Linked DNA regions of Homo sapiens. The protein of the gene in region 4 purifies or fractionates together with the protein of the main gene of each other region. This does not show direct contact. Each region holds a gene or a part of one and is shown on either strand. Other genes may lie near its edges.

Region 1 (3,344 bases), on a different chromosome or scaffold from region 4:
CACCATTTCCTGCAGGGCCGTGGTGCTGGGGTAATGGAGGGCGGCCATCTTGGTTGCCATGACTATGGTCTTGAGCTGCTCGCAGAGCTGGTTGCTGGAGTTCATGACTTTGTTGCGAATGTCCTGGGCAGTCACCTGCCGTGTCAGCGTGTCTCCAATGAACACCAGTTTGTGTGCACTGAGGATGACAAACTTGCTGTGTGCCACGAAGATTCGCGGGGGCTGGGCTGAGCTGACACAACTGAAGAGTGCGTCAATGGCGTTGAGAAGGGAAATGAAATGGGTCTCACATTGGTCATAGTAGAAGCACAGCAACTGCCGATCCTGAGCACTCACGCCACTGTTTGTGGTGGGTAGGCTCTGAGAGGGCTTCCACTTCGAGATGTCATTCTCCACGGGCTTTGTAATCTCTTGTTCCAACAGCTGGAACTGGCTCAGCTGCAAGGAAGACGAAAGCAGATCTCATTAGAGCAAGGGAGTGTGTTGCAATGGAAATTCACTAGGCCTTGGAGTTAAAAGACAGGGATTTTAGTCGCTAGTAACTGTCAGATGCATGTGAGCTGTAAAGCCTGGGTCAAGCTGCCTTGCTTTCCTAAATTGTAAAATGTAGACGTTGGGAAAGATGATCCTCAAGCTCAGACCTTCTATGATTGGACTACTGGTCTCTTGTACCCTCTGGCTAGAAGGTAGCATAGTGTTTAAACCGCAGCCCTGTTACCTACACCTTTATGGAGGTTAAATGAGTTAACGTTTACAAAATGCTTATAATAGTTTGGTATGTAGTAGGCTCTATGTAAATGTTTATTAATGTTGAGGGGTGGCAAGGGAAAACCAAATGTAGTGACCTCCTTGTCAAGTAAGTCACTGACAGTTTGCTCCTTCTCGGAGAAAGCCTCGACTATCTCAGGATGCTCAGATGAAATGACCATTCATGACCCCTTTCTGTTTATCCTACTCTTTCTGTCAAGATTGATAGACATGTTATGATCCAGCACTACAGGAAGATTAATGCATATAAATATATGAGCACTTAAGGAAAAAAAGTTTCTAAGGCAGTCTGAATGGGAATTGTGCATCATAATATTTAGTCCCCCAGAGCTGTTAAAAGAAGGGGGTTTTACCCAGAGTCAGATGCATCAGGTGCTGGCTTTCTTCCTTCTTTCCTCATTGCTACCAAATGGTGTATTATTTAAATTGCAATTATAATAATTTCTAGGGATTCCACTAAGACTCAAGAGAGACCTCTCTTCTGCAGATAAGGACTATCTGTGACCTGAGCTTCAGACTCAGTTAATCTCCCACCTGGACGTAGGGATGAGCTGGAGCAGTGATCACCTCACCCAGCTTCCCCAGCTTCTCTGAGAGATGCACAGCCAGCTTTACTTTACTTTTCTTTTTTTTTGAGACAGAGTCTTGCTCTGTCACCCAGGCTGGAGTGCAGTGGCACGATCTTGGCTCACTGCAAGCTCCGCCTCCCAGGTTCACACCATTCTCCTGCCTCAGCCTCCCAAGTAGCTGGGACTACAGGCGCCCGCCACCATGCCTGGCTAATTTTTTGTATTTTTAGTGAGACGGGGTTTCATTGTGTTAGCCAGGATGGTCTCGATCTCCTGACCTCATGATCCGCCCGTCTCGGCCTCCCAAAGTGCTGGGATTACAGGTGTGAGCCACCGTGCCCAGCCTTCAACAGCTTTACTTTTCTAGAATCTGTTTTCTTCTTAGCGATTGCTATGGTTTCTACAAGTTCCCCAAAGCCCTGCAGTCTTACCTTGCCAGATGCCAAGGCAAACATAAATAGGTACAAGGTGATATTCCAAGGTATTTAATCATAATGGATTATATTTTATATATCTTAGGCTTTATGCAAATATGTTCATCAATATATCATGTCATTAGATGGGGGGGGTACTTTCCCATTTTATAGGGAAGTAACTGAAGCTCGGGGAGGTTACCTGACTTGACATAGTTGGTTGGCCAGAAAGGATTAGAACTCAGATTTCCTAAATATAGCATGCCATTTCATGTCATTACATGCCATTTCACTTCATTTCATCTTAAAAGGCTTGTAAATAAATCCTCAATCCATCTCTCTTTATTTGTATGCCCTTGTTCTAGCAATAGTCGTCATTATCTCCCCTACTCATACCCAGCTTTTGAATGAACATGCCCTGCCCAAAGTCCTCAGTAGATAGGCCTGGATATATGTTGAAAACATTGAATTCTGCTCTCCTACCTTTAGATTGGACCAAGGCCAGGCAAACCATAGGCTTGTGTTGCTGGCGAAAGAGAGACAAATAGCGAGGTAGAGACAGAAAGAGAGAGAGAGAGAGAGAAAGAGAAATGGCCCAATCAACGTGGCCCAATCAGACTCTTTCTTGGGAATCTGATGAACAAGAGAAGGGAGCTAACCATCGGAAGAGGAAGCCGAGATGAAAAGCCATCTATAGAAGTTCTGAGTGGCCATTTATGGGTTCTGCAAAGTTACAGGGGAGCCAAATGAGTAGATAATTAGAGAAAACCAGAAAATAGGTGAGAGTGAAGTAGACTGATAGAAAGAAGCAAAGGAACTACAAGAAGGAGAGATAATTTACAGTTCTAGTTCTCCCCAGACCTGGCTCTATCTTCACTTTCTGTTACTGAATTCCCCTACTGTGGCTTTACTATAAACCTGCTTGCTTAGGCTAGCTTGAATGGGTCTTGTTTCTTGAGACCAAATGCCTTAACCCAAATAGTCCTCATATGTTAGATATGCAGGTTTAGCCTTTAAAAAAATTGCCGTTTAGATGGAACCCAGGTACACCCAGTTGAACTAACAAGGTCATAAACCTTCTCTTTGCTTTTAAACCCCATTCCGTGCTTTGGAGCTGATTCCTGCCAGTGAGCTGGAAGAATCAAAATCATAATCTCTTGAAGTGATACCTTTCCTTAGTGCTAGGTGGGAAATCTTTCCAATGCCAAGCAGTTTTTGCTCTGATTGAACTTACCTGATGATGTTCCAGCTGCATCTTGTTCTGTTTCATGATATTCTCTTTTTCCAATAGCTCTTTCTGTTGCCTCTCAAACTCCTCCTTACCCTGTTAATTTTCAACATAAAGAACATATTATGTCATCACTGTGATTCACTTATGCTAACAATTTCATTGACGGATGAGTAAATACTCTTTATTTTCCACTGCCTTGGCAACATCTCAAATGCCCAGTGAGGCACTGTGAACCCTAGACGACAGGGGTGGCAGAAAAATAAAGCCCATTGCCATATAGGGTGCCAGCTTTCTGGGGCACCTTAAAATTTTCGGAGAGCTACTCATGATTCCCTTCAAATCTCATATATAATGTTCTTTTTA
Region 2 (4,409 bases), on a different chromosome or scaffold from region 4:
AGGTATGTTCTTCCAGAATTTATTAAAGCATACAAAGCCCAACTATATATTCAGTAGGGGAAAAAAATCAGAAAGTCACTTTCAGGGCTTTTAGGAATGACCCAGAGCTCAATGTTTAGGGATTCTTCTGCCTCTCTTGGCTTCCTAACATCCCTTTACTCCTTTTCCTGCAACCTCAAATCAATTATTTTGCCACCTCATGAAGAAATTTTCAATAATTCTCTCTTGGGACAATCTTACAGTTGGACAGTTCTAAGTGTAAGAAAACCACACATCCCTCTCAGCATCACACTTACCAAAAGAGTGGATGTCGAAGTGCGCCCAGAAGATGTTGATGATGAAAGGGTATTCTGCTGCGTAGATAACGTGCTGTCAGAAAAAAAGAGGCTGCCATCAGCCATAGTGCTATAGTTACGTGACCTGGAGCTTCAGTCAAGAACATAACAAGGAAATAAGACATAATATGGGACACCAAGGAGGTCTGAGATCATATGTTAAGCACAATGGCCAGCCAGGGGTAGAGAGCAGTTAAAGCAAAAGTGGATGTTGAAAGGGGAAAATTAAAACAAGCCTCCTCTGTCTTCACTTCCCACAGTTCTTAGGTCACCCACTTACGACAAAAGCAGGGCTAATGTGGTCTCTGCCAGGTCAAGGGAGTAATAAGGACCAGAGAGCTCTGTTATTGCTATTCACCAACCCCAACCTCCATCCTCACCCCAAATCACCTGCTGTGTTGTGTGGTGGTAGTATTTGGAATCTCCTCACTGTGGCTCAAGCCACCCAAGGAGGATGAATGCTGATTGGTTGTCGTCAGTAAGGAAGCTGCAGATACCGTTTCATTGAGAGGGGGGATGCTAGAAGTGGAAGGTGAATCAGATTTCACTGCAGAGCCTGTAGCACCTAGAAATTTAGAAGAAAGGAATTCCTCTCATCAGAAAAAAGGGAATGTCTATAGAGAGGTGACCACAGTCCAAGGCAGTTCCAAAGACAAAAGGATGAGTTATTTAACAATGGACTATATTAGGTAGAATCTTTTTTCTTTAATGCTGAGAATTACACAGCATGGGTCTCAATTGTCCAGTGAAGGGAACTAATGGATTATCACCATTTTAAGATAGAAAACCAGAAACTTAGGAGGGGAAAAGCCTGAAGAACACTCACCTTCAACAGATTGTGTGGTCTGTAACTGCGTGGCCTGCACAGAACTGAAGCCATTCTGGTAAAAAAAAAAAAAACAGAAGAGCAAGAAACAGACAAACTCATGTGAATGAGGAAAGTTAGCACTGATGCAGCTTTATTTTGGTCAACAAATCTTTAGGAGAAACTCTGTAAATTAACCAAAAGGATTAATATTAATACAATGTAGACTATCCAAAAAACCAAAATAGGAACAAAAATTAAACAACAAAACTGAGATATACCAACACTGTGTGACCAAAAGCAAAAGAAGGAAACCCTACAAATTGTTGAAGACACCCCAAACCTAAAACAGATAGAGGAAAGGCCCAAAGTCCACATCCAGTGATTTTTGGGGAAGGGTAAGTACAACAGTTCAGCCACACCACCTATTCCGCTGGCTGCATCTGACACTCACTCCACATCACCTCTGGCACATGCTGTCTCCCTCACCATGCCAGGACTTAGCAAGGTGAGGTCTACTGACACGCACCCAGAAATCTGGCAATCACATCTTCCCAGAAGACAGGACAGGCACTTGAGACTGATTCTACTAGAGGCAATGAATTTTTAGTACAAAGAGAATGGTTTCCTGGCTCTTCAGTCTCCGGGTTTGCTGATAAGAACTTTTAATTCACTAGCCACAGATGTGTGCCTTTTTCAAATTCTCAATCACTACTTCCAAAGTTTCTTAGCACCACTTGCTGAAAAGTAAAACACTAATATTTAAGGAATTTTTGCCCACTATTCTCCTAACCAATTCCCAAGGGTTCATGAAGCCACTACCTTTGCCTGAGTCAGGTCCTTTTGGGGTGATGAAGAGATGGAGCTGGGGTACCGCCGAGTCTGTGTGGATCTCTGTTCATAAAGAGGGCCCTGAGCATTATTTTGGGAGGTATAGGTTGTCGACTGAATTGGGCCGCTCTGATAACCAGACTCCTGACTCTGGTTAGATGAAATTGTAGAGGATGATTCACTGTGAGTAACGAAGAGAAAAATCTCAGAGAAACAAAATAGAGCATATCTACTCATACTAAGGAAATCGTGGAGATCTACTAGTGGAATAACTTGATTTGAATCAAGAAGAAATTTTTCAGCAACAAATAGAAGAATCTACCAAAATTTCCTCCTGATAACACTAGGAATCCCTACCTTCTATAGCGCCAGAGATCTGAATTAAGAATTAATCTTAAAAAAACATCTAGGCCGGGCGCAGTGGCTCACGCCTGTAATCCCAGCACTTTGGAAGGTCGAGGCGGGCGGATCACGAGGTCAGGAGATCAAGACCATCCTGGCTAACATGGTCTCTACTAAAAATACAAAAAAATTAGCCGGGCATGGTGGCGGGCACCTGTAGTCCCAGCTACTTGGGAGTAGGCAGGAGACTGGCATGAACCCGGGAGGCGCAGCTTGCAGTGAGCCGAGATCAAGCCACTGCACTCCAGCCTGGGTGACAGAGCGAGACTCCATCTCAAAAAAAAAAAAAAAAAAATCTTAAAAACATCTTCAAGTCTTCAAGGAAGAGAAAAGTCCCTTGGCTCCCCCCTACATTTTGCTGTTATAAGAAAAAGTGGACCCGGAAGCCGTGGCTCATGCCTGTAATCCCAGCACTTTGGGAAGCCAAGGTGGGCAGATTACAAGGTCAGGAGATCGAGACCAGCCTGGCCAACATGGCGAAACCTTGTCTCTACTAAAAATACAAAAAATAGCCAGGCATGGTGGTGGGCGCCTGTAATCCCAGCTACTCAGGAGGCTGAGGCAGGAGAATCACTTGAACCTGGGAGGCAGAGGTTGCAGTGAGCTGAGATCGTGCCATTGCACTCCAGCCTGTGTGACAAGAGCAAGACTCTGTCTCAAAATAAAAAAGTGGCTAAATGTCGGTATACAGGATACATTACTCTTGGCCCCTTCTATACATTATAACATGGACCCTAAGCACAGGAAAAGCCATCTTTTGTTCACACTCATTTTAGAGAATTCTGAATTCTAGGCTCCCTCAAGAACCATATAAGATTTGGGCCGGGTGTGGTGGCTCACGCCTGTAATCCCAGCACTTTTGGAGGCCAAGGTGGGCAGATCATCTCCATTCAGGAGTTCAAGACTGGCCTGAACAACATGGTGAAACCCCATGTCTACTAAAAATACAAAATTAGCTGGGCATGGTGGTGCATGCCTGTAATTCCAGCTACTAGGGAGGCTGAGGCAGGAGAATTGCTTAAACCTGGGAGGCAGAGGTTGCAGTGAGCGGAGATTGCACCATTGCACTTCAGCCTGGGCAACAAGAGCAAAACTCTGAGCCAGGCGTGGTGCCTCATGACTGTAATCCCAGTCCTTTGGGAGGCCGAGGAGGGCAGATCACCCGAGGTCAGGAGTTCAAGACCAGCCTGGCCAACATGGTGAAACCCTGTCTCTACTAAAAATACAAAAATTAGCCGGATGTGGTGGCACATTCCAGTAATCTCAGCTACTCAGGAAGCTGAGGCAGGAGAATTGCTAGAACCTGGGAGGCAGAGGTTACAGTGAGCCGAGATCACACCACTGCACTCCAGCCTGGCAACAGAGCAAAACTCCATCTAAAAAAAAAAAAAAAAAAAAAATCTGGGCTGGGCACGGTTGCTCACCCCTGTAATCCCAGCACTTTGGGAGGCCGAGGTGGGTAGATCGCTTGAGGTCATGAGTTCTAGACCAGCCTGGCCAACATGGTAAAACACCATCTCTACTAAAAAATACAAAAATTTGCTGGTTATGGTGGTGGGCACCTGTAATCCCAGCTACTCGGGAGGCTGAGGCAGGAGAATCGCTTGAACCCGGGTGGCAGAGGTTGCAGTAAGCCGAGATCGCACCACTGCATTCCAGCCTAAGCAACAGAGTGAAACTCTGTGTTTAAAAAAAAATTTTTTTTGTAGAGACAGGGACTCATTATGTTGCCCAGGCTGGTCTTGAACTCCTGGCCTCAAGCAATCCTCCTGCCTTGGCCACCCAAAGTGCTGGGATTATAAGTGTCAGCCATCACACCCAGCCCCTAAGGGGCATATTTCTACCTGTTTAGTTACAGATAACCCTAATAACAATATTTTAAAGCACTAAAAATGCTATGACTGACTACTTTCCCCCTCAGCCATGCAGAGGGGCTTGGCCTCTCCAGAGTTCTAGAAATCTCCCACAGATTAAAAAAGTAGTAAAGGTTAATAAGAGAGGTCTTATGGTTAATGTTTCCTCTACCTGGCCGTGCT
Region 3 (4,409 bases), on a different chromosome or scaffold from region 4:
ATCCAGCCCTGAGCCGGCATCTGCCCTACTTTGCAGATGTTAGGGACATACTCAAGGCCACCTCCCTGGCTGCTGGCCCAAGCTGGCTGAGCTGGCTAATACACGAGGCCTTCCCTTCTTCCTAGAAACAGGGGGCAGCTTTGGTGCCCCCAAGGACAGACGCTTCTGCAAGGAGAAAGCTTAGCATGTGTCTGCCAAATGCCCCGCTGGGCCAGCTCTGCCCACCTCCTCACCTGCAGCGTGTAAAGATAAGGCAGCCAGACACAGTCGCCCCAGCCCAGGTACCACCCGAAGTGGTCATGGCAGATGTCAATGGTCTTCAGGTACCAGGTTTCGTTCCAGAAGAAGTCAATCACGTAGATGGCCTGCAAGACAGAAGCAGCCGCTGACCACCCCCGGCCCTCCTGGGGCCCCCATGGACCTCGGGGAAATCACACTCCACGCAGATGCAGCAGGGGGTGCTCGGGAGCTGCTCAGCAACTTCCTCAATGCTGGGGCTGTTCCTTCCCTGCGGCTGGGGCTGTTCCTGCCTGGGTCATGGGCAGGGCTAAGGGCTTCCTTGTCCTCAGAACCACCCCGAGCCCATGGCCCTGGCATCTCTCCCAGCCCAGGTTCTCAGGGCTTGCAATGGCGCGTGCCAAGGGGAAGGGATACATTCATCCCATCCAGGTCAACCTCCTGCCCGAGCAACGTCCACAGCTCCTGACAGGCCTCCCTCACCCTCTCGGGTTCTCCTAGCCAGCTCCCGCTGGCTCCCTGGGTGACGCTTCCGAATGCACCTGATCGCTGCCACCCTGCACCCCAGCTCAGCACACACTTTCTGGGTCTTGCTGCTTTTAAGATAAAGAGGAAGACTTCCATGAGGCCTCCAGCCTCACCTGGCTCTGAGCTCCTGAACGCTCTCTGGTCAGGATGCGGGATGTTTCTGAGTGTCCCAGACTTGCCACCCTCTCTCCCTACAGGGGGTTCCTGGAGCATGCACTCTTGCCTCCACTCTACCAGGTTAACTCCCACACACCCCCAGATTCTACCCAGGTGTAATCCCCAAGGGAGACCTTCCTGGACCACGCCTGGCTGCGTAGAACCTGCCTCCTCCCCTCCCAGGGCTGGCAGAGACAGGCACCCAAGGATGGCTTCCTTCACCAAGTGCTCGCCGGCTGCTTCCTGGTGACACCTGGGGAGGGCAGCTGACTCTCTTTTACAAGCAGTAGATTAAGGTCATGGGAATACGCTCTGGCTTGCGGGTTCCCCCAGAGCCTGCCGGCATCGGCGTTTCACCCTCTCCAGCCATGACAGGCACCTGCAGGACGTTGACCAGGACCATGGCATTGGTCACATGGCTGTGGAGCTCCCGCTGCTTCGCTGCGAAGGACAGGTTGATGAGGGTCCAGGCGACGATCCCGGGGCGCCCATTGAAGAACAGCTTGAAGTCAAACCACTTCCCGATCCGAGGGTTAAACTCGATGCCCATCATGTAGTTGTAAAAGAAATTGCCTGTGAATTTGCTTAAAAATATAAATAAAAGATACATTTAGTGGATGAGCATATCTCACAAGATGAAGCCACCTTACTTAGCGAGAGCCCAGCACTGGCCCAGGGTCCTAAAGGGTAACGTGAGACGGCGCAGGCAGAAGCTGGCCATGAGCCGCTGGGACCCCCACGGCTGGAATGCTTGTCGGCTGGTTCCTGGCGCCCTCATTCACTTTGCTTTGCATTCAGCTGCTGCTCAGCAGAGACTTCCTTAGGCAGAAGCCCAGGGGCACCTGCTCTGCACCCGGGAAGGGTGGGAGACCGGCCCTGGGCTGGTACCTGGGTTTCTCTCTACCCTTCTCCAGATGCCCTTGACGCATGGCACAGGTGAGCTGAAGAACTGGCTTGATTGCACTGAGATTACGTTCTGGGGCCCAAGCACACGGTTTGAAGCCGACGCAGGGCACGTGGGCCCTCATGGGTGAGTGACATTATAAATCACGCCAACGTAGAGAATGACAAACGCACCCTGGGCCCGGCTTCCAGCATGTGCAGGACAAGTTCTTTGACCAGTTACCTGAATCCCCCAATCCCCGGAGGGCCAGAGCATCAGCCGAGATAACCCCTGTGGAGACCCTGACTAGGTCTAGCTGGCTGAGGACACACAACAATTTCTGTGTTAACTAGAAAATCCTATTTTCATGTCCAGTTCCCTCAGGTAGGGTAAGTAGAAAGAAGCAAAACACACAAAGTCTACATGATTATAAGGTAGCGAGGATGATTTCCAGGAGCCATTGAAGGCCAGCCTCGTTATCTGATAACACACAAGCTACAAAGTGTCATCCTCCAGAAACATTTCCCAAGAGCCTAGGTGTAAACCACACTGGGGTTTTTTGGATCCCCCAAACTGAACTGTAAGTCCCACTGCCTACAACTGTCCACAAGAGAACCCCCCAAACATTGGTTTATGATGGATGGATGGATAGATAACAGGGTGAGTGGGTGGAAGGATGGATGAATGGGATGGGGAGAGGAGCAGGTGGATGGATATATGATAGGCAGGGTTGAGCTGGGGTGCAGGGTGGCAGGGATCAGGTGTGTTCAGAAGTGTCACCCAGGAAGCCAGAGGGAGCAGGCTAGGAGGGCCTGAGAGGGTAAGGGAGGCCGGTCAGGAGCTGCGGACATTGCTCAGGCAGGAGGTTGACCTGGATGAGATGATGCATTCCTTCCCCTCGGCACATGCCATTACAGGCCCTGATAGAGTGGATGGATGGGTAAATGGATGGATGACGGGCAGGTGGATGGGTGGGTGGCTAGATGTGTAGGTGGGTGGGTAGGTGGATAGGTGGATGGACAAATAGATGACGGGTGGGTAGACAGACGGGGTGGAGGGTGGATGGGCAGGTGGATGAGATGGATGATGGATGGGTGGGTGGGTAGGTGGAAGGATGGGGAGATGGGCAGGTGGATGGGTGTGTGGCTAGATGTGTAGGTGGGTGGGTAGGTGGATGGGCAGATGGATGAATGGGTGATGGGAGGGTAGATGGATGGATGATGGGTGGGTGGATGTGGGTGATGGATAGGTGGATGGATGATGCATTGGTGGGTGGGTGAATGGGATGGGGCAATGGGTAGGTGGATGATGGGTGAGTAGGTAGATGAATGGGTAGGGGGGTGGATGGGTGGGTGGGGAGATGGGCAGGTGAATGGATGAGTGGACAGAGATGAGTGGCTCACCACTGTCCAGCCATGGGAATGGGTACAAGCCAGCAGGGCTCTCCTGGGAAGCTGTTAATTAAAGCCACAGGGACAATAAGACTCTTCACTAAGGTTGTTTTGGGCCTCACCAGCTTATCCAAAGAAAGAGGCAATGGGCTGCCTGTGCCCCAAGCCAGAAGTTTTTCCTGGCTTCCTTACCCCCACGCCAGCCCTAAAGGCAATGACTTGGCCACCACAGCTGACCTGGCCATCTTCAGCTGCATTCTTGCCAAGGCTGGAGAAGCCACCAAACATTCAGAAAGGATGTTCCCCAGGGTGAAGCAAGTTCCATCCCCCTCCTCCTCTTCCACGGATTCTCAGTGCTCAGGGCTTTACAACCACCTGCCCCAGGCAGCAAGAAAGGCCAGGGGTGAAGTTTGCACTTTCTACATCAGGCTGGACCCGCTGCTAAGAACATACCAGTCTCTGGCGCTGGTGGGGAAGAAGTAGCCCTTGACCATGGCGAAGGTGGAGACGGCATAGCCAAGGATGTTGGCGCACCACAGCAGTGGGATCCAGTTGTCGAAGATGATGGTGGGCGAGAACCAGGACAGGAGATGAGCGTTTGCAAACCAGAGCAGGTGCGTGAGGAGCCAGGCTTGCAGGCCATTGATCTGATACTTGTTCACAACCCCTGCAGATGAAGGATTCAGAAATGAAGGCGCTTTCCCAACCCGCAGTGAGGAGCTTGGCTGGGCTGAAGCATGCCTGGCGGGGGCCCTGGTCACTTTCTGGGCCTCTGCTGCTGCGGACCCTCATCTGGGGCCCCAGGAACCATCTCTGAGGCCCCTATACCCTTGGCCAAGGAACTACCTGCTCCTAGGAAGAGGGAGGGGAGGCTGAGTCCATCCTTTGGTTCTGCATCTCGTTAACTGGCCATAGGCTGAGTGACAGGTGTGCAGTCTGATAGGGAGGTCAGGGCTGAGGGGCAGAAGCAAGTGAGGATGCCCCTGTGGTATGCCTGGCCCCCTCTGTAATTGTTGGGGAGCACCTCAGCCCATCCACCCCTCAAAACAGGGAGCTTCTGGGGGCAGAGTTGGGATGCGGTTCCAGTCTGCACCCACGTGAGAGGCACAAAGCCAGGCTCCTCGTGGGTTCTCAATGATGGCAAGGAATGAACAGACAAGGTCTCCCACGGACAGCCCCGAGGAATGGTGGTCTCTGCATGGTGGTCTCTGCAG
Region 4 (4,295 bases):
ATAGAAATGGAAATGTAAAAAAATAAAAAGGGAAGCCACAACCCTTCATGCTGCTGTGGCCTCTGTACATGGCAACACATGAGTTCACGGCAGTAGAACGGAGACTTGGGGGTGGTTCTCTCCTGAGTGCAAGCCTCTCTGGCTCCCTGGGGTGGGGCTGGGGGACTTGCTTTTCAGACCTGGAGTGATTGGCAAGCTGCTTACTGAGGGCGGCATCCCAGCCGCCTCGTTGCCCCTCACTGCTCCCCTCGGCCGTGCTCCCAGGCCATGCGGGCCTGCTCCTCCTTAGCGCTCCCAGGAGGCAATGGAGCCTTGCGGTGCAGGCCTCGAGGCCTCTCAGTCTCTTCACGCAGCAGCACCCCCTCATCGTGCTCCAGGGCCGGCAGGCGGGGGTGGTAGGGCTTGGGCGGCAGCGCAGGCGGGTCCATGGGGTCCTGAGGGATGACGCACCCTGGGGCTGAGTGGCTTCGGCATGGCTGGGCCTTGATGGAGTCCAGGACGGCAGACTCAGAGAGGCTGTAGTGGACAGGGAGGTAGGGTGGCTCAAGATCTTCGTCAGCATTCCAGGCCTGACTTGGCATGGAGTCCATGGTGTCAGTGCGAGGTGGGGCCTCCGAGGAGTGCCCAAAGTTACTCTCACTCAAGGAGGACACGCCGCTGCTGGCACTGCCGGACAGCGTAGAGTTGCTGCCGTCCAGACCTGACTGGGGGCTTGTGGGGGAGGCTGGGATAGGGTGGAGAGGAGACTGCGAAGGAAAGGGTGGGCATGTTAGAATCCCTCTCTCCAGACAGGCTGACTTGCCCGCCATAGGAAGACCAAGAGCCTGCTTATGAATGAACTTTAACCCTCATCAACAGCATGTTTCTTGTTTCTTCAGCAGCAAGCTCCCAGCTCCTCCCACCACCCCTAAGCCAGTGGAACTCCAGAATCATCTGCATTTCTGTGGCCAAAAAATTGCCCTGCCCTGGCTGCTGGGCATTGGTGCCCCCTGGTCCCAGGTCCCAGGCTGCCGTCGGTGGCTCTGGGATACTGACATAAAGGCTGGGTCATCAGGCCTGTTGAGGAGGGGCAGAAAGAACCCTGGTGGGCCGTGGACCAGAGGAATGTATTCTGCTGCTAAAATCTGTGATAGACTCAGTCTTTTCCAATTTGCAGACAAGCTAACAGGTAGGAAATTTTACTCTCCTGAGTTTTTCATAAAGTTCTTGCTTTTACTGAATTCTAGTTTGAAATGCTCTCTGATCCACCACAGGAACATTTGTTTAGCTAGCGAACTACAGTGTGTTGATACCTTGGTGCTGGCTGAGAGCCCCCAGGTTTCCCAGTGCTCACTGCCCACACACTCTTGGTACTGTGTGTTGTTGTCTCCAGGACCCTCTGATCTCCCTGCCCCCATCACATTTGCTGCAGGACACAAATGTGCACCTGCAGCTCAAGTGTGGCTCTGGCCACCCCCAGCTTCTGCCAGGCTGGGGAGAGAGGTGAAGGGGAGGGCTCCAGTTCCTCCTGTAGACCCCAAGGGTGGTTCTAGAGCAGACGAGATGACTCATCTCACAGCCTGGTGGGGCTGCCGCTTCAGTACATTACCTTGCGCAGGGTCCGGGCAGGGAGGGCTGGGGGGGTATCACCCAGAGGGTGGTGGAAGGCGTCAAAGTGTAGGGAGTAATGACCTGCAAAGGGAACAGAACCAGAGCCTCAGCTGGGGGCCCTGCACAGACTTCATGCCAGCACCATCTTGCTGGGCCAACTGGGCAGGCATGAGAAGAGTCCCCTGGGGACCCCTCAGCATTGAGGGCTATGGATAAACCTCTCTTTACACTGGCCTTCTCCAAAACACAGGCTGCTGGGGTAAAAGAAACTCACTCCACACAGGAAGTCAGAGAAGTTGAGTGCTTCAGAGTCTGTGGAACAGGCCTCAGGCAGCGGCAGCTCTAGCCCACTGCTAGGCGATGAGACAGTCTGGTGAGAAGTGTGCCTGGCACAGTCAATTCCATTGTCTTCAGCCTTCTGGTTGGGATGGCCTTCCTGAGCTAACCTGCTGTACTCGGAAACCTCACTGACCCCAAAGCCCAGCAGGATCCTTCCTGTGGTGGGGGTGTTTTGGCTTTGGCTGAGTCGGCCCAGAGAATGGCCCATCTTCTCAGCTTAGATGGCTGTTGCTGTGGCCCTTGAGCAGAGTCTGAGACCAGGGACTATCGGGGGACCCGCTGGAGGTCTTCTTACCATGCAGCAGGCTTCGGGGAGGCACTGGGGGGGCCAGGATGCGCCCCATATGGGCAGACAGGAAGGGCTGGGCCTCTTGGGCTCCGCTATCCAGACTCCAGCTGCTGGGGGCTGCTGGCACAGCTGAAGGGTGGAAACAGATGGCATGAAGGGAGGTTACTTCTTGAGCCACCCTCTGGGAGAAGTACAGCTTGTGGCTTCTCCAGTGTGCACCACGTATCCAGCACACATGTGGGGCATGCCAGCACCTGGAACTAAAAACGCTGGCCAAGCAAGGCACTGTGGTCCACAGGGGAGAGTGGCCAGGGATTGAAGCTGCTTAAGAGGAGGGCAACAGAGTGAGTTTATGTCTAAAGAGTATTCAGGATGAGATAGCTGAATGTGCAGCAAGGAGTGAACGCCTGCAGCCTCTGGGATCTGCCAGGAGGAGAAGAGAAAACAGGACAGAAGAGTAGAGATGAGAATGAGAGAATATAGAGAGAGCACAGGACATAGAGCTCCTTGCCAAAGTCTAGAGTCAGCTCTCCTACTGCCCAGGCTCAGTGGGAAAAGCAGGGAGCAAGGACAGGTACCTGTTGGAAGAAACTGCAGCCCAGATCCAGCTGGACCCACTGCTTCCTAACAGGAGGAGGGAGGGCTGTGGAGCCGATGAGTACCCTTTGGCGTCTACAGAACCCCAGTTCCTAGCACCCACATGCCATGGATGCAGGGGTGCAGTGGGCCCAGGAAAAAGGGAAGCACAGAGTGCCCTTCTGTGTTAAAGAAGGAGTCCACTGCCAGAATACTGTCCCCTCAGCCACAGTTGGGATGACAGACTTTTCAGGAGGAGAGAGGAATGATGGCTGGACCTTGGGGTCTGAGGGTGCCACTCTGCAGAAGCAGCAGTGGACATGTGAATTCTTTTGGCCAGCTCCTCCTAGAGAACAAATACCAGCAAAAAGAAATATGTCCTTTCTCTGTTGGAGCCAGGCAACTCTCCCCTTTGGGCTATTAGCAGCAGAGAAGCGGCTCACAATCCAGGTGCTGTCACTGGATTTGTTCTAAGGCCGTGGTAGCTACATTGAGCCTGAGGTGGCTGAGGTTTGGTTTCTTCCTGGCCTAGACACAGAGATGGGAATTTCAGGGCCTAATGGGAGCTGACAGGCTTTGGAAGGGAAGGAGCTAGAGTCTGTCCTTTGAAAAGGATGTGGCCAGAGGGGCTGGGCCCCCTCAGCTGTCCAGGGATAAGACTGTGACATCCATCATCCTCTTCTTCCTCATTGCGCAGGAACTGGCGTGAGCTTGCAGCAGAACGCAGGGTAAAACTCCACTGTCTAAACAGCCTCAGTTCTGAGAATTGCCCCGTCTCCTGGTATGGTTGATAGCTGGCGGCAGGAAGGAGGGGTGTGCCAGTGATTGAGTTGCAGGCAAGACACTTAGCTGTTGCCTGAAAGGAGGAAAGAATTCTGCATCTGATGAGCATCAGGTGGATTTCACCAAATAGCCTCCTTAGAGAGCCTGAGCCATCCCAAGAACAGGCCCACTCACCCATGCTCCCTACAAGATGCAGCATGAGCTTCTTGGTGTTGAGGCTCCCTGTACCTTCCCCTCTCTGCCAAAAAAATCACCTTCTCCATAAAAAGCCACCAAAGAAATATCAGGGAATAGGAAGCTTAGAAATGGGTCTGGGCGGCTTCCCTAAAGGGGTTCTGACAGCCCAGGATCTCAGATGCACACCTAGCCCTGGAAGAATTATGGGGTGCAGATGTTCACCCACAAGGGCTCAAAGGAGCTCTAGGGCAGGAAGGCTATGGGAGAAGAAGGCTTACAGGGCTTTAATGGTTTACAAAAGGGTGCCTGCCTGAGTGACTCCATATAAACCAGAAGCCATCAAGTTTGCCCTGCAGCCTGATGTCTGTGAGCAGTGGGGCCAGTAGACCTTTGCCATGTAGCATAAATGCACTGGGGCTAGAGGGAAGGCTAATACAGAATGACTTATCCTAGGAAAAGAAGGGTGATCCCAACTGTATCCTGTCGCCTCCCTCCCTCACCATTAACAACTGTCCAGCACTGGCCTGAGGCCGCCAGTGCA
Region 5 (4,409 bases), on a different chromosome or scaffold from region 4:
TGAAGGAGGAGGAGATCTACTTGGCACTCCAGCAAGTGAAGCTGCAGAAGCTGGGGTATTCAAGGACTCAGGCAAGGAGCCTCCTTAGCTTATTGACTAGCCTTCCTCTGCCTCTCTAGCCTCATTTATCACCCTCTTCCTGTTCCCACTGAAAATCTTGACCAGTCATTTGGTAAAACATCAAGTTGAAGGGTTTGTAGAATTTCCTCAGTCTGTGGATGACATCTGGGTCAATGCGAGGATGAGTCCGACCTTTGCTCTTGCCTAAGCACCTCGGGGCACTGCTGTCTTCTGGCTTCTTTAGGCAAGGGAACCCCTTGGTTTTGTTGAAATAGAAATGCTTCTCAGTCACAACACGTTTGAGGCCTAGAAAATCCTGTACTTTGGCCATTTCCCCGGCGGGGTCCACAATGAGTCGCTCACCACTGACAAAGAGGATCTGGGAGAGGGGGAAATACTGGAGCCAGTTTTCCAGATGCAGCGCATAGATCCCTATTCGAATGGCACTCCAGGAAGCATCGATCAGCCCGAGGGTCCGGTTTTTGAAGGCCAGCACCTCAAAGGTGGGGATCTCGGGTTTCTTTGACAGTGTCTGCGTGTAGTCAGAGATGGCCCTGGTCACGGGGTTTCTCACCACCACAATCAGTTTGATGTCCTTGGCCATGGAGTGAATGCGCTTGGGAGCCTCATTTGTCACAAAGTAACTTGGAGTCTTCTCCATGGTTATTTGCCCATCCAAAGTCTTGGGCATCACATTTCTAGGAGAGGGAGGAAAAAGGAAGAGAATGGTTATTCCTGTCCAGAAATATCTGAACTTCTTTGCACAAAATGTGTGATATAAACAACCTAGTTTGGAACCACCAAATAAAATTGATAAACTCTTGCAAGTTCTTCTTACCTATATCTCCTGACTATAGTCTTACCCTGGCTACGTATTATCAGAAAAGGCAACACAAGGCATATACATTCTCTCCCTTATATATCCCTAGGTTTAAATGGCTATTCTACCTCTTACCAGTTATGTTTAACCTAGATACACCCTTGATTTCTCTACGTATTAGTTGTATAATCCCTGAAACAGAGATAATGATAGCACTGACTTCACACTGTAGTATAAGGATTAAGGGAGATAATGCTCAAAAAGCATTGAGCAATGAAGCTGGCATGTGTAAGAGTTCAATAAATTAAAGAAATTATTATTGTTATAGTAGTTTTTAGAAAATCTTTGAGCTCAACAAGACCTCAAAGCTTATCTAGTCCAGGATTGGCAAACTACCTCCTGCCTCCTATTTTCGTCTAACTCACAGATAAGAATGATTTGTAATCACTGAATTGTTGTTGAAAAAAAAACCAAAAAGATAATAATAATATTTTGTGATGCATGAAAATTATATAGAATTCAAATTTCAATGTTTATAAATAAACTTCCATTGGAACACAGCCACATTCATTCATTTACATATTCATCTAGGCTGCTTTTACAGTAAAACAGCAGAGCTGAGGAGGTAAGACAGAGGCCATATGGCCCAAAGCCTAATGTATTTACTCCTTATTCCTTTAAGAAAGAGTCTGCTGATCCCTGACTTGGTCCAAAGGTATTATTGTGCAAATGAGAAAACCGAAGCCCAGGGACAGGGAATAAACATGGAAATCAGACAGGCTTTGTGACCTCAGCAAATTGAATTATATCTTCGAGCCTTATTATCCTCATTTGTAAAATCCTAAAACCTACCTCAAATCCCAGCACTTTGGGAGGCTGAGGAAGGCAGATCACAAGGTCAGGAGTTCAAGACCAGCCTGGCCAATATGGTGAAACCCCATCACTACTAAAATACAAAAATTAGCCGGGCATGGTGGCACGCGCCTGCAGTCCCAGCTACTTGGGAGGCTGAGGCAGGAAAATCACTTGGACCCAGGAGGCAGAGGTTGCAGTGAGCTGAGATTGTGCCACTGCACTCCAGTCTGGGTGACAGAGTGAGACTCCATCTCAATCAAAAAAAAAAAAAAGAAAAGAAAAGAAAAGAAAAGAAAAGAAAAGAAAATTCAGTTGAGAGGAAAATGACATATAAGATGAAAGATCTAGCATAGGTATGGCTCAATATATGGGATTTTATTCTTTCTTTGCTCCCAAAATTGCCCAGAAAGCCACTGACAGATCCCATACCAGGGTCAGTATCTCTTGGTTCCTTTGCTAAGGCTGCTCCTCCACTCCCATTCCTCCATCCGAGTTTGCCTCCAGAGTAGCCTTATCTTATTTGGGAGCTCCAAGATATTAATATTAAAGGGGTTTGATGCCATTTTCCCCTAATCTCAATGTGGCAGGCTTATCAATGATAAAATTAAGCTTAGAATGCCATTATACAGTCAATTTGCTACAGGCATATGTAGACCAAAGTTAATTGAAGATAAACCTGTTCAATACCTGTCAGTACAGCAGGCCATCTGCCACCATGTGCTCCATTAAATCTATTCACTTCTGAGCCTTGCACCAAAGTGGTGCATTTAGGATTACACAAGACCTCTTTGTTATGATGACATGCTTTTAAATGTCTTAGCTAATAAAACTTAATACAGACAAAGATCCCCTAGCTTCTCCTACCATAATTAAATTTATTTACTATCGCGTGTGTGGAGAAAGAATGACTTTTCTTTTATCTCTAATTCACATGCTCTGTCAATAATTAATTGCAACTGGGTTTTGAGCTATCTCGGCAAGCACTTTTATGAGGCAAGAGGAATTTGCCTCGTAGAGAAATTCACAAAGAGCTGGATGTTGTTAGTATAATGGTTGGGCAGCGTGGTGTTTTCAGATCAAAGCAATAGCCCTGGCCATAAACAACCATGCTCATCTTGGAGTGACATATTCTCCAAAGTAGTTTGAATGCCTTTGTGTGTGTCTGTTTGGTTCTCAACAGATCAATTTGTCTAATTTGGAGGAACAGGGCTAAGGAATGCAGCCCCTGGGAATCAGATTTGCCTGAATTAAGAGTTCTGATTACCCATGCTACCTTGATGAAGTTACTTAACCCATTTTGACCCTTAATGTTTCATCAAAGAAAATAGGGTTAATAAAAGGCCATGCCTCATAGGATTTTAATGAAGATTAAATGTCATAATGCAGGTAAATCACTTGGGATCATGCCGGTTCAATGTCAGAATTTTTTTAACTTAAGCCAGCTGGCCAAAATCAGGATTATTCTTACAGTAATTCTTACAGAAGGGCAAGGAAAAAAAAAATACTTCATTTGACCAAATGGAAAAGGCAGGAAAACATGGTATCTAAGGAACTGATCTAGAAAAAAGTATACTCTAATTCATGCCAATATCATCAATTGCACTTCCGGATCTGGAGGCTGGTGTCCAACAAGGGAGCTACCATTAGCTCAGCCTGAGTATAGGAAATATACTGACCATCTTATTTTTATTTCAAGTGGAGAGATATATTCCCTTGTTTCATTATGCAACTCATATCATATTATAAAAATATTAGATAAATCTTGATGCAAAAACACATCACCTGAAAATAGCTATTTTTATACGGCCTTTTCCAGATTTTAGTTCCCCTGATGTACTTTTGACACACAAAACTAAACACATTATTTTGTTGCATTTTTCTTTAGTGTAGGAGCAGCTGCTCAACTTTTCTTTTCATCCATTCTTCACCTTTGCCTTCTTAGACCTCAATGCTTCTCTTTGCACTGAGCCCCATTCAAATTCATCTCCTTTACTTCAGCTGATTGACGATCTGTCAAGATCTTTGTGGATCTTGAGTCTTTTATCTGAAGTATCTGGGACAAAATGGTACCCAACATATAAGCTGGTAGATTTAGCAGAGTAGATGTGTGCCTAACTTACTGCTTGTTGCAAAAGGAAATAAGAGAAGGCATTGCAGAAGGCTTTGGAGACAGTAGAGGGGAGCAGAGGAGACTAAATAGCTTTGACCTTCATGCTACCCATGAATGTGAAAAGTATATACTTTAGGAGAGTTTTTGCATTTGGGGCACACATGGGGAGACTATCTCATTGAGCCATGATTCAACCAATGTGGCATGAGTTATCCAGTTATTTTGTCAGTGAGAAGATATCCAGTAGTTGCTTGAAATCTATAAAGGACAAAGCTCCCTTTCCTCAAACTGATTCTGAATCAGTTATAGTCATTCATTCATTCTTTCATTCATTCCATAAATGATCACTATGGGTAATGTAACAGTAAACAAAACGGATGCAGTCCCTTCCTCCACTAAGCTACCAGTCTAGCTCCCACAGCTGATACATAAAGAGCTCTTTATAGCATCATATAATGAAGTATTTAAATCAACAGAGCAGGCATCATTATTACTCCAGTTTTACAGAGAAGGAAACAGGACCAGAAGCTAAAGATTTGTTCCAAGGTCTCACTAAGTATGTAT
Region 6 (4,409 bases), on a different chromosome or scaffold from region 4:
GTGAAGACAGGGTCTTAAAGGATTTCACTGACTTCAAGTCCCTTCCATGTAACCCCAGACTCCTCATCCATTCATAGTCTGGTTCTCCGTAATCTCCATTGTCCAGAGTGCCTTTGGCCACACACAGAACTAGTCAATGTGAGAAGATCCTACTCCTTGCTGGGATCTCCATTTTTATCAGCTTCCTCTTGGAACAGAGAAGTTGTAAGTGAGGGGCCTCAGATGTTCCTCCGCTTTTCTCTGTACCAGCTGTAGGAGGGAGAGTGGTACTGATTGCTGGACACCTTGGTGGTCATCTGGGGATTCACATGGCCAGCATGGACAGAGGACTTGCTTGCACAGTCCACATCCCCTCCCCATGGTGGCAGTGGCTATAACACACTCTTCTGAGAGCCTGCCCTGTTGCTAGGTTAGACACTTGTACAGTTTTCAAAACGTTCTTTTATTTTTCTTTTTTTTGAGACAGTCTCGCTCTGTCGCCCAGGCTGGAGTGCAGTGGTACAATTTCAGCTCACTGCAACCTCTGCCTCCCTGGTTCAAGCAATTCTCCTGCGTCAGCCTCCCAAGTAGCTTCGATTACAGTCATGCACTACCACACCGGCTCATTTTTGTATTTTTAGTGCAGGCAGAGTTTCACCATGTTGGCCAGGCTGATCTCAAACTCCTGACCTCAGGTAATCCACCCACCTTGGCCTCCCAAAGTGCTGGGATTACAGGTGTAAGCCACCATGCCCGGCCAATTTTCAAAACATTCTTGAGTGAACTGGTCTTTGTTGAATAAACTTAGCCATTTCTCTGATACCTAGAACCAGTTTTCATTTTATTTGTGAGAATTTTGATAGCAGCACTTCAGTGAAGAAAGCCATGAGTTGACAGTGTCAGCGTTTTCTGTTTGACACCACAGTGTACAGCCCAGGGCAGTTCCTCAGAGGTACACGTGAGGACAGGGCGTGAAATCCAGCTTGGCCTTTGCTTGTTTGGGGACTTCACAGCAGAAACAGTTTTCTTGAGTACACCATTCTTTATAGACCTTACAAATGCTATAGCATGTCATTTATTGGTAAAATTTTTAGACTCAATAGAGAAGCTTTTTTTTTATAGTTTATCACAAAACCTCTTCAGGATATGAAAAGTCATCTCTTGTGTCCACTTATTGCGCGGTTTGGGAATAGAGCCTTTTAAATTTCTTATACTATATCTTGTGCTAAAAACGTCTTGTAATTTCACATGCAGGCATTATGAGATCCTTGCCCACTGTGTGACTTTTCTTCCTCTGGGCATTAAGCTCTGCTACTAAGTAATTTCCTTTTTGAGCCTTTTTTAAGTGAACATTACTTTAGAAAAAAAAAAAGCTTTACTCTATTTTAAATGGCCATTAGGATATCAAAATAATCGGTGTCTTTACTTATCAATGGTTGTGACTTGTAGTTGCGATTTCTCGATTTTGTTGGATCCATTGCTGCATTGATAAAGTGTTTTTCACAGATGAGGCAACTTGGAAATTATCCATCCAGGTACAACCATATTAATAAGTAGGTCTCATCATTAAATGGACTTTTTTGTTTTTCCCAGTGCACTAGTGCAGTGAAATGATTCAGAAGCTTGAAATTCATTGTTTTTACTTAGGGAGAATTGTCTCTATGCTTAGGCTTAGAACCTTCCTCTCCTAGCTCATACCTCTTCTTTAGAAATCACATTGAATTGAAAAATTTCCTCCAGTTTTCTTTGCTACAAGTAGAGCATGTTTGCTTCAGCTGTTGGTGCATAAGGGAAGGTTGGGGCAGGTAAAGCTGAAGAGGCTGACGTCAGACTGCTGTATAGAGCTCATCAGCTACCAGTGGCTTCCCCTGTCTCCTGAAAAAAAAAATACTAAATGGACCAAGTCAAGTGAACATAATCTTAACTGCTTACTGCCATATGAGGCTCAAAGACCTATAATAAAATTGCTATAGGGGCTGCATAGTCTCTTTCCATCACTGTGAACCTGCATTGCTCAGTGTACAAAGCCCATTGCAGGGGCTGCAGATGGTGTAGTATTATCCTCGTATTTTATTGTCTTTAGTGCATATTTAAAGGCAGTGCATTGATAGAAATCACTCTTTTGCGTGGAGCTCCTAGCGAGTTCAGGGACACCCTGGGATTCCACAGAACCCAGGTTGAGAAATCTTGATTTAGACAGTTGTAGCCATACAGAGCTTTTCATATTTAGAAGTGTGAGGCAGAAATAATGCATCCCTTCCCAAAGATGTCCACATCCCAATCCTCAGAATCTGTGCATATGTTTCTTACATTACACGGCAACAGAGACTTTGCAGATGTGATTATGTGAAGGACCTTGAGATGGGGAGGTCATTTCACAGCTCCTGTGTAGGCTCTATGGACAATGAAGAAATGGCCAAATGAGGTGTGGTGGTTACAAGCATGGAATCCCGTGCCAAACTGCTATATGATTGTGGGCAGATTACTTAACTTTTCTGTCTTAGTTTTCACTTCTGAAAAAATGGGACACCTTGTTATAGGGTGCTATAGCACCTGTGTTATAGGGTTGTTGGGAGGATTAAATGAGTTAGTACATGTAAAGGATTAGAACAGTGCCTGGCACACCCTGACATGTTCTGTAAAAGTTGGCTGTTTATTATTTATGCAGCTTTTCCATATGGAAGAACATTTATTATTTCTGATCCTCACTTTAGATCTAACAGCAAATGATCTAGCTGGAAACACGCAGTTTTTCATGGCTCATGTATGATTTCTTTTCTTACTTCAGTTACAGTCTTCAAGTTTTATAAATGTAGTTACTTATTCTCATATTACTCTATACAGTTGAATGTGTTCATTCTTCTTTTAGAAATCTTGCTTTTAATACATTGCCTTGATTTTTAATTATTGTATGTTTTTATCTTTGATACACAAATATGTTAACTTTTTCATCTAACCCTGGAATGGTGTGGTATTATCCTAGTATTTTATCTTCTTTCGTGCATATTATATAAGGCAGTACATTGATATATGTTTTCAGGCCACATGTTTATAGAGCATAATAACCTCTAGAACTGTAAAATTCATTTATCATTCAACAAATGATAAAAGAGTTCTAAAACAAAGATCTCTTTATTACTAGTGAAAACAATACAAAAATGAACAGTTACTCATCCCGTCTTTCAGGATGCTCACCATGTAAGACAGAGCCAAAAAAAGTACATCATCATGGTTAGAGGTGGACACAGTATATTATGAGTGAACGAAAAAAGGACTGACAGAGTTTAGCAAAGGTAATCTAGCCAGAACTGAGACTCAAAGGGAGTGTAGGAGTTGACTAGGCAGGGAGAGAGCACATTAGAAACCACTGAGAAATACACCTTTCTCTATTACCTGTCGTCTTAATCACATAGCTTCAGCTGTTCCTTAGTAAAGATAAAACTACTGAACCTTCATGGTGGAGATGAAATGTTTTATGTTCTACCTTGAATTAGGGAAGAACTGAATAAATTAAGTATCTTTCCAGCTTGGAATCACTGCCTCCATATTACATTGTTAGAAATATATTTAGTAGTTAGATTAAACCTTATTATATTCTCAGGCAAAAAAAAAGTTTGTTGGTAAGGAAGAAAGAAATGTCAGCCTCATTATTTCAACTAAAAGATCTAGACAATTACAGGTTATGAAACTGATTCACCTAAAGGTAGAAGAATTTTTAATGTTTACTTGGGAGAAAATAGTCTATCATAAAAAGAACTTGTCTCTTTTGTCTGTCAGAAAACACCATAATCAAAATCAAAATGACAAACGACTAATATTCTTAATATATAAAGAAAATTTTAAGTTGTGACAACAAAGACCCCAAACACATTAGAAAATTGGGCAAAAGACATGAACAGATAGTACACACACACACACACACACACACACACACACACACCCCAAGATATACAAATAGCTCTTAAATGTATTAGAAGATACTCAACTTTACATATGATAAAAGACATGCAGATGCCTTATATGGCAGTTCCCTGTTGCTGAGACAACAGGGAAATGGGCTCATTTATCACTGGTGGGAATAGAAAGTGGTAATAGTCCCTTTAAAGGAGAGTTCAGCAATAGCTCAGCAACAACAAAAATATACAATTTTTCTTAGTTTAGCAATCCTGTTCCTAGGAATTTACTCTGAAGATACACCTCCAATAATGTGTAAAAAATTTTTTTTTAAATACTTACATATACACCAGGTTCTCTATTGAGGTGTTTTTGGTAATAGTAATATATTAGAAACAACCTAACTGCCATACGAAGATTGGCTGAATAAATAGCCAATACATGGACTATTACAGAAAATAATTAGGAAAATCTCCATGAACTATTGAGTGATTTTTTTTTTCAGAATATATTGTTAAATCAGCAAGATACATATA
Region 7 (4,916 bases), on a different chromosome or scaffold from region 4:
GTGCTTTCCACTATACAAACTACCACTAGCATTCTGGTTATCCATTTTGGTAGCTAATAAGGTGATGTTTATCCATGTGATATCAAGCAATTTTATAGGAAATGAGAAGCTTCTTCAATAAGGTGATATAAAAAGGTATAATGATGTTTTACTTAACTAAAGCAGAGGTATGTGTATATTAAGCAGACACATTCAGAAAATAATTGTTGGGCTTTTGTTTTATCACAGTTTCTTGCTGTGGAGTGGGGTGTGATGCCATTAATAGGATTTCAAACTTAAGTGAGAGAAAAAGAAATAGAATCAAATAAGCTTTAAAGAAGCTGATTCATCTCACCCAACACCTTTTCTACTGATATAGCCTCCTACATATTAGGAAAGGCAAGGGTTGGAGTTGTTTAAAGAGTTGAAAACGGGAAAGGAAATAGAGGAGGGAAGTTTTATTGAGAAGAATTCCACCTGTCTAAACAAGGAAAATAGTATCCTATGGGCAAACTTTAGCATCCCTGAAAGAGCCCTGGATCTTCACTGATGGCTGCAGAGGGGACACCCTGATAAATAGATGACATCGACAGAGTGTCTCAGGAAGAAACAAGTGCATGGATTCATAAAAAGGCCAGATGGGACGGTGGGCTGCTATGAAATATTATAGCACACCTGTGGAATACGGTAGTGTAGCTGGGAGGGACACATTGGTCTGGGCCAGGGAATCACACTGCATTGTCCTCACACATTGCCTTTAACACATTGCCACTCTCCACTCGGAAAATAGGTCGAGCAGGTCTAGGGACTGTGGTAGGGCAGTTACAACAATTTGATCGTATATCTTTTCACTATCTGAAAAACAGAAGTTGTTATTGAGCAAAGATTTAGTTCTGGGGTAATACTAAATGCAACATCTAGATGTTTGAAAAATAAAGTTTCCAAAAAACATCTGCATACAAATTAGGGCTTATGAAATATAGGCAAGCTTAAGTGTTATCTTCCACCATTGTTGGGAAGGAATAAATCTTGAACATTTAGGAGTTCAACGTCTATTAGTAGAATGATTTTTTTAGGAGGTGATCCCTAAACTCCTTTTTATGTTCTAAGTACTGCATGGTTGAGGGCTGGACTGTCTAGTGCTGAAAGAAAGTGTGTATTGAACATAGAGCCTGATACACAGTTAGGCGCTTAATGGTTAATTGATGCTGGTTGAATACAGTTGTATAGTTGGACGCACCAAGTTTGTTATTAAGGGAGGACCACCATAAAACTCGAACACCAGTTAGAATGTCTTGGGTAGAAATTCACAGCAGTCTGGAGCCACGTTCCCCTGCTGAGAAGGGAACTGCCAACCCGTGTAAAGTCTGGTCTAGTGAGTGTTCCCGGGAGTGTGCAGGTGTTATTCCTGAAAATAAGGCCGGCCACTACCAGACAGAGAAGCTGCCCATTTTAAGGTGTCAGATCAACGCCAGCGACGCTTACCTCGGGGCCTCCTCTCGCCCCACCTTTGCCTTTCTGCCAAATCTCTCCTTGCTCCCGGCCGAAGGGATTCCCACCCCCAGCTGCCTCCTCCGAGCCCCGCGGAGCAGCGGACTCCTCCCCTGGAAACTCCTCCGGGGCTGGGGGAGGCTTTGGCGCATGCTCCGTACCTAGGGCAGGTTTTTGCTGCGGGTAGCAGGGCTCCTGTCACACCGGCTGGCGGGTTGTGGCGGTGCCAGCCTGTGTGTGCGAGTGTGTCTGCGTGCCTGCGCCTGGGCGGACAGCCCGGAGCGGCAGTGCGACTCGCCGGGAGAGGCGTCTCCGCAGAGGCGCCTCGCCCGCTGCCGCTGCGCTGCGGGGGCCGCTCTGCAAACTTGCGGCGAGCGCCGTCAGCCCTCGCGGCTCCACAGCCCCGCGACCTGCCGGCAAAGGCGCCGGGCGCGCGTGCCGGGCGCGGTGCCCGCGGCCGGCCGGGGCGGCGGGAGCGGGCCGCGCCTTCGCCCTTGGCCGGCGCCCTGGCGAGCCTCATGCAGCCCCGGCGCTCGCGGCCGCAGCTACCCGGCTGCCCGGCTGCGCGCGGCAGGTCCAGGACCCGAACCCCGCTCCCCAGCGCCTGAGCGCCTGCAAGCCGCCGGCGGGATGCCGCGCGTCGCCTGAGAGAGCCGCGCCGGGGCGGGAGCAGGGAGCGGGCCGGCCCGGGCGCACCCGGGAGCGCAGGGCGCCCCACGCCGCAGCCGCAGCCGAGCGCGCCGGCGCCCGCCTCCCCCGCCCGGCTCGCAGGCCCCGGCTCCTCAAGCCCCGAGGGCCGCGGGGCCGCCAGCCAGCCACACGCCTCGGCGTCAGGGGCATGGAGGAACGGCGGGCTCCGAGCCGCGCCCCGGAGTCCGCGAAACTTCCGAGCGGGCGCCCGTCCGCCCTGCCGCCGCCGCCGCCGCCGCTTCGCCTGCCGGCCTGAGAGCGGGACCATGGATGAAAGGTTCAACAAGTGGCTGCTGACGCCGGTGCTCACTCTCCTCTTCGTGGTCATCATGTACCAGTACGTGTCCCCCTCCTGCACCAGCTCCTGCACCAACTTCGGGGAGCAGCCCCGCGCGGGGGAGGCCGGCCCGCCCGCCGTCCCGGGTCCCGCCCGCCGGGCTCAGGCGCCGCCGGAGGAGTGGGAGCGGCGGCCCCAGTTGCCCCCGCCGCCCCGGGGGCCCCCCGAGGGACCTCGGGGGGCCGCGGCGCCGGAGGAGGAGGACGAGGAGCCCGGAGACCCCCGGGAGGGGGAGGAAGAGGAGGAGGAAGACGAGCCGGACCCCGAGGCCCCGGAAAACGGCTCCCTGCCCCGATTCGTGCCGCGCTTCAACTTCAGCCTGAAGGACCTGACCCGCTTCGTGGATTTCAACATCAAAGGGCGCGACGTGATCGTGTTCCTCCACATCCAGAAGACGGGGGGCACCACTTTCGGCCGGCACCTGGTGAAGAACATCCGGCTGGAGCAGCCTTGTAGCTGCAAAGCGGGTCAGAAGAAGTGCACCTGCCACCGGCCTGGCAAGAAGGAGACGTGGCTCTTCTCCCGCTTCTCCACCGGCTGGAGCTGCGGGCTGCACGCCGACTGGACGGAGCTCACCAACTGCGTGCCGGCCATCATGGAGAAGAAGGACTGTCCCCGCAACCACAGCCACACCAGGTACTGTCGCCCGCTGGGTCTCTGTTCTTCCCCCCCACCCCCCATCCCTCTTCCTCAGTCCTGACCCAGAGCGACCCCGCGCTCCCTGCCCCTGCCGATGGTTTCCTGGCGTCTTCAGCGGTTGGCGCCGTGGCTTTGGGGAGGGATGAGAAACCTCCGGATAGTGCCTAGGTCCTGAACTCGTTCTTCCCCCAGCCCCCACCGCTTCCCGCCACCCCTCTGCCTTCACCCTCTAAGATGTGCGGAGCCACCGTGTGGATCCTGCCTGTTGCCTAGCACGGCCTGGCCTCCCTCCCAGTGGACGCTGGAAAAACGCCCTGAAATGGGGAGCGGATCGCGGTCTGGGTTAGACCAGCCTTGTAGAATTGTGAACTTAAGTTTTGGGAGTGTAAACCCAAACCCAGGAAAAGGAAGGGGGAGTAGAGAGGCAAGGCACGAGTTTTCCAGGCGTGGTGAAGCTGGAGACGAGTATAATCCCTCCCTAAGTGGCTTTTGGATGGCAGCTCAGGAAACAGTCAATCCTCTTGATGCCACTTTGAAGACACACGTGCAAATTCCTGTTCTACCGCGATAGATAACTCTAATTCTGGAGATGGTCTTTGTTGCCCAGCAGTGCCAGGATTTGGACTCACCTGTCCTCAGAAAGATTTCCATGCTCTTCCTAGGCCATTACATCAACTTATTCCAAAAGTATGTTAAATGCCTACAGGGTGCCTGACAGTGTGCTAGGTGTTAAGTGAGTATAAAGATAACATAACATCCCTTGTTTTCAGGATGGAATGACATTCTTGATCCCCTGCCTCCCAGCCTTAAAAAACAGTAATACAGTGGAGAATTAAGAAAGTTAAAAATCTTAATAGCCAATGAAACTGCTTACATTATTAACATGCTTTGAGAGAGACATGGGCTTAATAATTTGGTTGAAGGTCCTTTCTGCCCATTGCAATTTGAAGATTAATCTGACATGCTTGCTAAAGGACGAAAATATTAAAAGCTTGGAACACTAGTTCATTGAAGTTTTTATCTTAAAGGTTTCAAACAATTTGGTATGAGGAAATAGGAATTTAAAAGCTCAAGCTGATTATGTTGATATCCCAGATAGCTTTTGCATTTGACGTTATAGAAAAGCTTCATTTACTGGAAGCTACCCAGATTCTGGAATTCACCACCACTGAAGCATCTAATTCTACTTCATTTCTCCAAGAATGAGCAAAATTTCATTATGAGATTTTTTACTCTGGCAATTCTTCAGATACTTTCCTTCCTCCCTGCTCCTTTTCCTGTTTCCTGCACATTAGTTAGAATAAGAAACTGGATTTGGAATGAGGGAATTAGGCTCTTCTCTTAGTATATTTTACGGATCCTTTGCTTTTAAATATTTTTAATAGTGTATTACTTTGGATCTTGCCACTCTCTTTTAGCTTAAAACAGTTTTTCAATTAAGTATTACTTCCAAACCTCCTAACACATAACACTATTACTTCAGTGAGACACAATTTCTGCTACATTTCATCCAACCTTGTACTCCCTGTTTAGATTAATTCCTGATTGACCTCAAAGGGTTTGCTAGACTGCTTCCCAGCTTCCATTTCACTAAAACTGGAGTCTTATTGATTATCACATAGAAATGTCTGATTACTCTTCAGTAGGGGCTGGCATTATTTTTGTCCCAGGTTCATAAAAGTCTTAGTAAATAGATGAAGATTTTAAAGGACTTAGAGGAGGATGTGGAATCTAAAAATAATTAGATTTTTGCTTAGTGATGAATAATGTTACTACAGAC

Evidence for each region.
Region 1: the proteins of DOCK3 (region 4) and NEDD9 purify together in Homo sapiens (co-immunoprecipitation; one study listed by IntAct). This does not show direct contact.
Region 2: the proteins of DOCK3 (region 4) and UBAP2L purify together in Homo sapiens (affinity purification with mass spectrometry; one large-scale study listed by BioGRID and IntAct). This does not show direct contact.
Region 3: the proteins of DOCK3 (region 4) and DHCR7 purify together in Homo sapiens (affinity purification with mass spectrometry; one large-scale study listed by BioGRID and IntAct). This does not show direct contact.
Region 5: the proteins of DOCK3 (region 4) and HS3ST4 purify together in Homo sapiens (affinity purification with mass spectrometry; one large-scale study listed by BioGRID and IntAct). This does not show direct contact.
Region 6: the proteins of DOCK3 (region 4) and AIDA purify together in Homo sapiens (affinity purification with mass spectrometry; one large-scale study listed by BioGRID and IntAct). This does not show direct contact.
Region 7: the proteins of DOCK3 (region 4) and HS6ST3 purify together in Homo sapiens (affinity purification with mass spectrometry; one large-scale study listed by BioGRID and IntAct). This does not show direct contact.

What each region holds. Positions count from the first base shown.
Region 1 is NC_000006.12:11,185,234-11,188,577, forward strand, and holds part of NEDD9 (enhancer of filamentation 1), read right to left. Parts: intron 3,075-3,344; coding exon 2,985-3,074; intron 439-2,984; coding exon 1-438. UniProt on the Homo sapiens protein: Scaffolding protein which plays a central coordinating role for tyrosine-kinase-based signaling related to cell adhesion. As a focal adhesion protein, plays a role in embryonic fibroblast migration.
Region 2 is NC_000001.11:154,251,643-154,256,051, reverse strand, and holds part of UBAP2L (ubiquitin-associated protein 2-like), read right to left. Parts: coding exon 4,399-4,409; intron 2,153-4,398; coding exon 1,963-2,152; intron 1,217-1,962; coding exon 1,162-1,216; intron 901-1,161; coding exon 726-900; intron 370-725; coding exon 297-369; intron 1-296. UniProt on the Homo sapiens protein: Recruits the ubiquitination machinery to RNA polymerase II for polyubiquitination, removal and degradation, when the transcription-coupled nucleotide excision repair (TC-NER) machinery fails to resolve DNA damage.
Region 3 is NC_000011.10:71,437,579-71,441,987, forward strand, and holds part of DHCR7 (7-dehydrocholesterol reductase), read right to left. Parts: intron 3,863-4,409; coding exon 3,649-3,862; intron 3,259-3,648; coding exon of another isoform or gene 3,208-3,258; intron 1,506-3,207; coding exon 1,301-1,505; intron 366-1,300; coding exon 234-365; coding exon of another isoform or gene 226-233; intron 1-225. UniProt on the Homo sapiens protein: Oxidoreductase that catalyzes the last step of the cholesterol synthesis pathway, which transforms cholesta-5,7-dien-3beta-ol (7-dehydrocholesterol,7-DHC) into cholesterol by reducing the C7-C8 double bond of its sterol core.
Region 4 is NC_000003.12:51,377,501-51,381,795, reverse strand, and holds part of DOCK3 (dedicator of cytokinesis protein 3), read right to left. Parts: exon of another isoform or gene 2,354-4,295; intron 2,348-2,353; coding exon of another isoform or gene 2,225-2,347; intron 1,672-2,224; coding exon 1,589-1,671; intron 747-1,588; coding exon 237-746; 3' UTR 1-236. UniProt on the Homo sapiens protein: Potential guanine nucleotide exchange factor (GEF). GEF proteins activate some small GTPases by exchanging bound GDP for free GTP.
Region 5 is NC_000016.10:26,131,961-26,136,369, reverse strand, and holds part of HS3ST4 (heparan sulfate glucosamine 3-O-sulfotransferase 4), read right to left. Parts: intron 759-4,409; coding exon 122-758; 3' UTR 1-121.
Region 6 is NC_000001.11:222,677,711-222,682,119, reverse strand, and holds part of AIDA (axin interactor, dorsalization-associated protein), read left to right. Parts: intron 1-4,409. UniProt on the Homo sapiens protein: Acts as a ventralizing factor during embryogenesis. Inhibits axin-mediated JNK activation by binding axin and disrupting axin homodimerization. This in turn antagonizes a Wnt/beta-catenin-independent dorsalization pathway activated by AXIN/JNK-signaling.
Region 7 is NC_000013.11:96,088,437-96,093,352, forward strand, and holds the start of HS6ST3 (heparan-sulfate 6-O-sulfotransferase 3), read left to right. Parts: upstream 1-1,670; 5' UTR 1,671-2,426; coding exon 2,427-3,133; intron 3,134-4,916. UniProt on the Homo sapiens protein: 6-O-sulfation enzyme which catalyzes the transfer of sulfate from 3'-phosphoadenosine 5'-phosphosulfate (PAPS) to position 6 of the N-sulfoglucosamine residue (GlcNS) of heparan sulfate.